Linked DNA regions of Homo sapiens: all the other regions are linked to region 2. Evidence: fine-mapped expression QTL. A gene starts in region 2. Each other region holds a variant in brackets. All regions are shown on one strand. Distances are between the middles of the regions.

Region 1 (2,757 bases), 170 kb before region 2:
AGCAGATCATGTTTGTCTGATTATTAAGAATTCTTTTTTGTAACATTAACTCTCTAAAGACAATCAATGGACTGACATCACTGCTACAACACAGGTTGCTAACTGAGCCTCTGATCTTCAGCCACATCTTGATTTTCCTAATAATGAGTAAATACTGCCTGGCTAAAATGCTGCAAAGTCTTGATGAGAGAAAGCATCAACAGATCAAGCAAAGCCATGAAAATTATGAAGCAAGCTAGAGCTGATTATTAGAATTAGTAAAAATGATTAAGAGAGGATGACACAACCATACGGGATTTGTATATTCTGATTGACACTCTTTTGGCAGCGAATTGGGTCAGCACCTCGGGCAGGGAACCAAAACTGAGTGAAAACTGCTCTTTTTCCTCCTAGCTCAGGCCACCAACGTCACAGCCGGGACTGAGAGAACTGCTGCATCTGTGGAAACTTCTATTCTCGTGGGGCAGAGATTGCACTGTGAAACCCTACCGACACTACCCCGGAAGGGCCTGGCCTCCGAGGTGTCTGCAGCGTGCTGCCTTCGCCGGGGCTTTTCAGAATGGGCCGGGGCCTCGGGGGTCTTCATCCCCAAGGAAGCCTCTTGATTTTTGGCACCGCCTTTGTTTTTGGGCCGGAAGCCGTTGTGCGGCTGTCTTCTGTGTTCGTGGCGGCTGTTGCCCTTTCCCAGTGGCTCGGCTTCATTCCCACTGCCCTGCGACTTGGCAGGCCCATTTAGCCTGTTGTTATGATACTGTGGATTAAATCTCCGTCTTTGGTTAGAAGATCCATTCTACCAAAAAAGAAAAGAGATAAGTATCAGATGCCAGCAAGCCACTGATGACACCAGTAGACATCAGGAAAACCAAATCTCTAAGCCACAGGTAAGCTTTTTTTTTTTTTTTTTTTTTTTATACACCAGAAGAATCAGAAAACATGAAGATGAGGTCAGGCAGATAAAATTATTAATCCTAAAAGAATAGTGGACTGTTTTGTAAATGGAACTGGAAGAAAATGATATTGAAAGAGAGGTTACAGAAGTGTAAGACAGACAATTCAAAAACTGGGTCAAATAAAATTCATAAAGATGCTTAAACTATAGCAGAATAAAACAGAAGCCAGGGGCAGAGTAATGATGATCCTCTACTATGGAGATTTCTGAGACATTCTGTAGAGAC[T/C]GAGAGGGACAGGAGGCACAGAAATTGTACACAGAAAAAGGGCAGGGTCCCTGGCCAAGACCCACTCTCAAGCCCAAAGTGAGAACTTTACATTCCTGTTTTCCTGCTCAAATATTGCCTTTTCCAAAACCACCCCTGGCCTACCCCACCCCGTATCCTGTACCCATAAAAATCCCAGGCTCCACTGGCACAGAGCAGAGAAGAGGAGAAGCAGCTGCACGTCGGAGACTGCAGTCTGAGTCGGAGAGCAGCAGCTTGACTTTAGCGGGACTGCTTGATGGCAGTACTTCAGGGGAAGAATACGTTCCCACTCCATCCCCATTTTCCAGCTCTCTCCCTCCTGCTGAGAGCCACTTTCAATGGCAATAAAATCCCCCGCGTTTACTATCCTTCAATTTGTTCATATGACCTGATTTTTCATGGATGCTGGACAAGAGCTCAGGATACAGAAAAGTGTCACATTGACCCTCTGCCTTCATGAAAAAGTAGAAGGTCTATTGAGCTGTTAAATACTTAAGCCGTCCTTGGACTGCAAAGCTAAAAGAGCATTGTAACGCATGCCCTCTGGGGCTCCAGGGGTCATGGGTACTACCCTAGGCACTGCTGTGGGACTGCATGGAGTTTTGATCCTGCCGGTGGCCAAAAGTGCTTGCTCTAGCTCCTGCACCTGCTCACCTGCATGCTCTCCCTCCCCCGAGGGGTTCAGAGCTTCAGGCTGAGAAAGTGAGGCACCCCTGTTGCAAGGCCTGTGAAGGGGTCAAGGAAAATTTCCTGTTCAAAACCATGCATAGGAATTCTAATTACGTAAGTGAAGAAAAAGTAAAATTCTGTAACTTTTCTTCTCTAAAGTAGCTTTTCTAATTTATTCCAAAACAAATATCTTTATAGTTCAGAAATATTATCTTGGACAAATATAGGGGTGAAGTGTATCTGGCAGGTCTTGGTGGCATGCAGAAATAAGGTGTATTTTCACAGAGGTAATTCATTGTTTTTCTAAACTTTCTGCAGTTATAAGCAAAGAAAATTTGAAGCCTCTATTAAAAAATCATTCCTTCAACACATCACTGACCAGGAACGTAAATGGATGAGCAGTAAGGACGCAATGGATTAAGCTCCTTTACAAGGGAAAGATTTCTGAACTCCTCAAGGTCAGTAATAGCCAACACTCATTGAGTGCTTACCATGCACTGAATGGGGTTTCTCACCATGCACTACCTCATTTAACATCAGAATCACCCTTTAAGTTAGTTGCTATTATGTGCTTCGTTTTATAGATGAGGATAAGGAGTTTCAGGGACTTGCCCAAGGTCTATCTACAGTTGGGAAATGGTGGAGCTATTCCCGCTTTATATACTATCTCCTGACAAGACTCTTAAGTTGTAACATAAACATAAACCTTTTTTGAAAATCAAACCTCTTAAGAAAACATGAAATTTTATGAGTTACAAATATATAAGGTTCTTCATTTGTGCACTGTGACTGGATGGTATAGGTTTAGGGCAGACCAACCCCCAATAATTCAGAGCCTAGAGCAAGAGTACAAATGTAGGTCCATACATCTGTTAAAGGAAAATAAATCTTG
Region 2 (2,757 bases):
TTTTCAGGGTATTGGTTGTATTATTTGAAGTCTTTTTTTTTTTTCAGAGTGAAGAGATTTCTGACTTCCTGTCCTCTTCCCTGCTATATTACATACATCTGCTTAAACTCTGGAAAACAGTACCAGTCAAAGTGGTGCTGAAACCTTCCTTTAAGACAAACTAAAACGATGTTAAAAAGGTTACACGACCTTACTATTTCAAGTACTGGTATAAAACCACTTTCTCTGCACAGGTTCTAAAATTTCACAGTCGTTTGTCTTAAAGTCTGTCGGCTTGTGAGGGGGCTGGTACATATTTTAATATTTAAATTTCAAAAAATAAGCAATGAGACTGTGTTTGAAGTTCAAGGGTTTTCACTAGTTCTCAAGCTACAAACCCTGTAATATAGCCAAAAGAAAACGTACAGAAAGAATCTTTCACGAAAAGTGTCAGGTCTCCAAAACCCCGACATCTGCTAAAACCAGGATTGCGGGGGGGATGAGAAGCTCGTGAAGTTCAAAAACACACCAACCCCGCGGGAACACGAAACCTCCACTCGCGAAGACGCGACGCTTCCGCCGCATCCCCGCGCAGGTGAAGACTCGGCCCTTCAGCCCCGCGTGTGCGGCAGCATGATATTCAGAGTGCGCCGGCGTCCAGCGCGAGCGCATCCTACGACAACCCCGTCTCCCGCTGGGGTCCGCAGCCCGCGGACTCCGGGGTCCCCCCGCCCAAATGCGGCGGCGCGACCGCTTCGTCCCGCGGCCAGGGCGCTCCGCGTCTGCTCCGGCCACCCCAGCCCACCCGCGCAGCGCGGACGCCAACGCATCCCACTCCCGCTGGGCGCCAGGGGCGCGGGGTTCAGTGGGGCCGCGGCCCCCGCACCCGGCTGGGATCCGAGGGCGGGGTGGTCGCGGCTGACGTGGGCTTTGCGGCTCCGGGCCAGAGAGCAGCCTGGGGGACGGTGGGTCTCTTTCCGGCTTGGGAGGGAACGGGGGCGCCCGCGCGGGAGGACGGCAGGCGAGGGACGGCGGCCGCGGGCGATTCAGATCCGGGGCGGGCGGGTACACGTCGGAGCGCGGCGGCCACACGCTCGCCCGGGGAGCGCCACTGTGCGTCCCAGCCGGCGCCTCCTCCCGCTTGCCCGCGCCGGCTGGAGAAAGGAAGGACGGCGACCTTCGCGTCCGGTCCGCGCCACCAGCCCGCCTCGGCGCCGAGCGCGGGCCACACCCAGCGCTCCGGGAGGCGGCGGAGGCTGGGCGGCCCGGGCTGCGGAATGCTCGGCCCAGCCGAGTCTCCGTCCCGGCCGCGCAGGCCCCTCCGCGTCCGCCCGCGCCCTGCATCCCCAGCCGGCCCGGCGTGGAGGGGGTCCTGGGCTTACCTCTGTGTCGAGCGCCGGCTCCTCCGTCCCGGGCCGGAGCCGGGGCCCGGGGGCGCGGTCGCCAGGGGAGGCGCCGCGGCGGTGGCGGCCCCTGCGGCTCGGAGGGCGGGCCGAGCGGGAGCCGCTGCCTGGGCCGCGCGCCGTCCGGAGCTCGCCCCGCGCTGCCGGCGCTTGCAGCGGAGGGCGCAGCCAGCTCGGCCCCCGGACTGGATTCCTTCACTGACACAACTCCGGCTCGGCCGCCCCACGCAGGGACACTCCCGCCCCTCGCAGGCTGCCCCCGCCCGCCGACCCGCCCGCCTTCCCCTCGGTGTCACTCACCAGGAGCACACACCCCAGCCGGCGCCCCTCGCTCCCGCTCGCAAACACAGCGCTGCTCACGCCTCTCTCGGGTTTTGTATCCGCTCACACGCACGTTCTGACACAGATCTCGTCCCTCCACACGCCCTCCCTAGCTCCTTTCCCACCCCACTTTCTAGAAGAATCCCAGTACAGCTTCCGCACTTTGCTTGCTTGCTCCAGACCGACTTCCTCGCCTTTCCCCAAACCTCCACTTCACCGAAACTCCCCTTGTTAATGAAAGATTTTGTCACAATCCGCACGTGTTGCAAGAGAATCATCTTCTCCTACCCGAGAAAATGAACTTTGCTCCCTCAGCACTGTCTGCAAATACGAGATGTTTTTCCTTTTAGAAGGTAGTAATGCTTTCTGGAGAGGATCCAAGCTCAAAATGTAAGCAAAGATAGCCCATTCGAAAATGACCTGAAAAATCAGGCGCGGAAAAAGTGCTGGAGCTCGGGTCAGCCCTTGGAAACCCGACCAACCCGGGGTGTTCCGCCGCCTCCTCTGCGCTGCGGGTCTGCACACTGGGCTCCAAACGTGTGTGTAATAACCAAGTTACACATGGGCATCGTGGGCTTCAGCCGTGGGTTTCTGCCTGGGAGTACAGTAGTCGGGAGAGTAAAAGCAGTTTCTCAATCATTATTCATGATGGAAGCACTTTAGATAACACTCTTCTTCCAGAGGCAGTAGAGTGAAATGCAGGCAGCTCTCCAATTCAGGTTTTTATTTATTTATTTATTTATTTATTTATTTAGAAGGGTGACTTCTTAGCTTCCTTTTTTTTTTTTTTTTTTGGCAATACCAATAACTGTTTCTGAGTGGCTCCTTGGCTGTCAAGCTCCTTACAAATATCAGACCAGAGTTTGTTATGCTTCTCGAGCTCCAGACTCTAATGGGCCTCCGAGGGCACTGCAGAATCGTACATAATCCGATGTTCAGGAATTCATAATTTGAAATAAAATACAAACACCTTTCGGATAAAGTTCAAATCTGCTAACATAATGTGGCCCTGTTGACAACGCACTGCTGAAATAAAGAGAGGAGCTAAAACGAA
Region 3 (2,757 bases), 150 kb before region 2:
TTTAAAACCAGGCCACATTCCATCTTCCATGCATTTGCCTCAGGGAGACTAGAGTGAGAGGAATTGCCGGGGACCATCTGATCCCAGACAATTTTGCTGCAGAACCTTCTTGTGGGGAAAGTACTTCAGCTGGAGCTTAACTCATCATTCGCCAAGCCAACAATTGCAGAATGGGAGCATGGGGAGGGAGGCAGGCCCAGCAGGAGGCGCATGCAGTAGAAAGAGAAGGTGGGAACTGCTGGAGAGAAAGGATGCTATGAATGCTAATGAATATTTCAGCCTTCCTGGCCTCTACCAAATAGCATAAAGCATGCCAAAGACTGATAAGCCCTACAGCCAGGCTTCCCTGCATAAAGAATTTCCATTTCTTTCACTAAAAAGAAAAGAGTGGTATAAAAACATCTCCCTCCACTGTGGGCTCTGCCGCTTCTTAATGCAAAGGAATAAGAACTGTGACCAACGGTTCTAACATCCCCTGAGAGGGATGTCAGCTGGGCTGATAGCCTAGTAGTGCCCACTGACCACCACGTGGGCCTTGAGCTGGCAAGCTACAGTTGCCCCGTACTAGCTAGCACTGAGCATCTGTGTCCCTTCCCTTAAATTTTGCCCACTAGTTGCAAGGCAGGAAAACTTCCTTTATACATTTAAGGCCTAATGTACTGTTCCCATGAGTACCATTTCTGGTCCAACTCCCCAAGTATTACCAGCAATTATTGGGCCCAGGGCAAAGCTAGTCAGGGGTTTCAGCTCACCAATTTCTCAATTGCAATTTCTCAATTTCTTTGTTGCAGCTGTCAACAAAGATGCTTCCCTGGCTTGACAGCCACAAATGCAGAAAGACCGTACGGTTCTTTATTCCCAGGGTCAGGAGGCCTGGCAGCCCTAACTGTAAAGGGCACTCACGTTCTTGCACACTGCCAATTCCCGGCTCTTCCTTGCTGTTCTGCTCCCCATCCTGTCCTCTCTCCTGCACCCTCTATGCTGGTTACTGGTGTCATCTCTCACCCAGTGTCCATGGCTCCTCTTCCTTCACTTCCCACATGGTTACATCCTTGGAAGTCTACCCCAGAAATGTCTGTCTGTCCCATGCACCTCTCCACTTCCACTGACTCTTATTTAACCCTGAGCACATTACCCAGTCCTTGGCTATTTGTTGTTGTTTATTGTTACACTGCTGGAATTCCCGGGTCTGTCACCTTCCACTCTGTATATATTTGCATTTAGGTTTTATAACAACCTGAATTCTTTTCAAAACTGAAAAATAATAATAGATTTTTTTTTTT[TTA/A]AATGCAGCACTGGTGACAAATTGGTCCTTCTAAAGATTTATTGGGTTTAACAGTGTTATTTGGTAAACATATAAAACCCTGCATACATGTCCACAGCATGTAGACTGGGGTTAGCACATAACCCTTTGAAAGGCTGCCTACTAATCACGCTCATCCGGGAAATAGAGTGGGGGTGCCTCAAGCATGAACCACACTCAACATACAAAGCAAAGTCAAAATCCATCTGACTGTCAATGAACATCAATGACTACACTCAATTGCCAATCAGGCTGACATTTTATTTCTACTACTTTTATGAGAGGCAATACAATGTGTTAATATTGTTTAGTCTGCATATTTTATGTTGGAATCATACAATGATTTGAAATCATGGTTAATAAATTGTTCATCATACTGTCTGAGGTGCATTTCTGGGATGAGACACACAGATTTAGTATAAGGACTAACTCTCAACATTAGTAATATTTTGGAGTTCTTCAAAAAGGACATAATTAATTAAAAAATATACAGGGATTTCTTTTTCTTATTGGAATTTTTTAAATGACAGAATAGCATAATCCCATAGTATGGAAATCCCACAACATTAAATGTTCAACTGAAAAATCTATATTCCTCTGTTTAGAAATTGTACATATGACTTTGATGAACAATAGAAATTTTTATCTTTGCTAATTACTTATTAGTTCAGTTTCTTTTCATGGAGGTCACTATTCAGGGAAAGTAACTTGACTGTATTTCAGTGTCTTTGACTATAAAAATGCTGACTCCCCCGCTTCCCCTTTTAAAGTTACATCTGCCGGGCGTGGTGGCTCATGCCTATAATCCCAGCACTTTGGGAGGGCGAGGCAGGCAGATCACCTCAGGTCAGGAGTTCAAGACCAGCCTGGCCAACATGGTGAAACCCCATCTCTACTAAAAAACTGGAAAATATTAGAAAGCAGGATAAAATGAAACAAATTTCAAAATAAAACAAAATAAAGCAAAATGCCCCTTTGTCTCAAGCACAAAATAGAGCCAATCACTCTGATCACTGTTGTATTTCCTTCCAAAAAAAGAAAAGAAAAAAGAAAACGGTGGGGGCAAGGGGAAGGGCATTTATGTAGATGCCATCATGGTTGCTGAACATAAATAACAGGAACAGAAACTGGAAGAAACTGATATAGTACAAGAAGTGCCAGAAATGCTGGCCCACATTCAACCCAAGGCAGCCAGGCCTAGCCTCCTCTGCTCCTGGCCTCCAGGCAGGCTCTCATGTGAAAAGGGGAGGGGAGGGGCTCTTCTTGTTTTTGGCCTAGAAGGCTCTTCCCCACAATCACAGGTGTTGTTATTGCCCATGGTAAGGCCGTACCCTAGTCCAGGCTTCCAAAATGGAGCAGGAATACAATATTAAATTTTATGTACTCACTTGTTATTCTAAGTAGGCTTTCCTCATCTTTAGTATACAGATTAACAGTAGTACACATGTATAATT

Direction of the effects. Alleles are on the strand shown, and positions count from the first base shown. SD is a standard deviation of normalised expression in the study named. Not every link is listed here.
With allele TTA in place of A in region 3, the expression in lymphoblastoid cells of the gene that starts at base 1,591 in region 2 is higher (small effect, 0.32 SD a copy in GEUVADIS).

The links. PIP is the estimated chance that this variant, and not a neighbour inherited with it, causes the effect.
Region 1: its variant is fine-mapped to the expression of SPATS2L in whole blood (INTERVAL, PIP 0.98).
Region 3: its variant is fine-mapped to the expression of SPATS2L in lymphoblastoid cells (GEUVADIS, PIP 0.93).

The regions. Positions count from the first base shown.
Region 1 is chr2:200,475,669-200,478,425 of GRCh38, reverse strand. It overlaps SPATS2L (spermatogenesis associated serine rich 2 like), which reads right to left. Exons shown (of 13, transcript NM_001100423.2): 13 at 1-790. The coding sequence ends at 395. It overlaps LOC101927741 (a long non-coding RNA gene), which reads left to right and starts at 453. Exons shown (of 7, transcript XR_007088047.1): 1 at 453-881; 2 at 2,184-2,323. The variant T/C (reference allele first, on the strand shown) is at 1,176.
Region 2 is chr2:200,305,527-200,308,283 of GRCh38, reverse strand. SPATS2L (spermatogenesis associated serine rich 2 like) reads right to left here and starts at 1,591. Exons shown (of 13, transcript NM_001100423.2): 1 at 1,362-1,591. RefSeq lists silencers at 627-956, 977-1,706 and an enhancer at 2,117-2,216.
Region 3 is chr2:200,451,421-200,454,177 of GRCh38, reverse strand. The region is part of intron 8 of SPATS2L (spermatogenesis associated serine rich 2 like); the gene reads right to left. The region is part of intron 2 of LOC101927741 (a long non-coding RNA gene); the gene reads left to right. Among named protein-coding and RNA genes, the nearest start is that of KCTD18, 57 kb to the left of the region's middle. The variant TTA/A (reference allele first, on the strand shown) is at 1,284.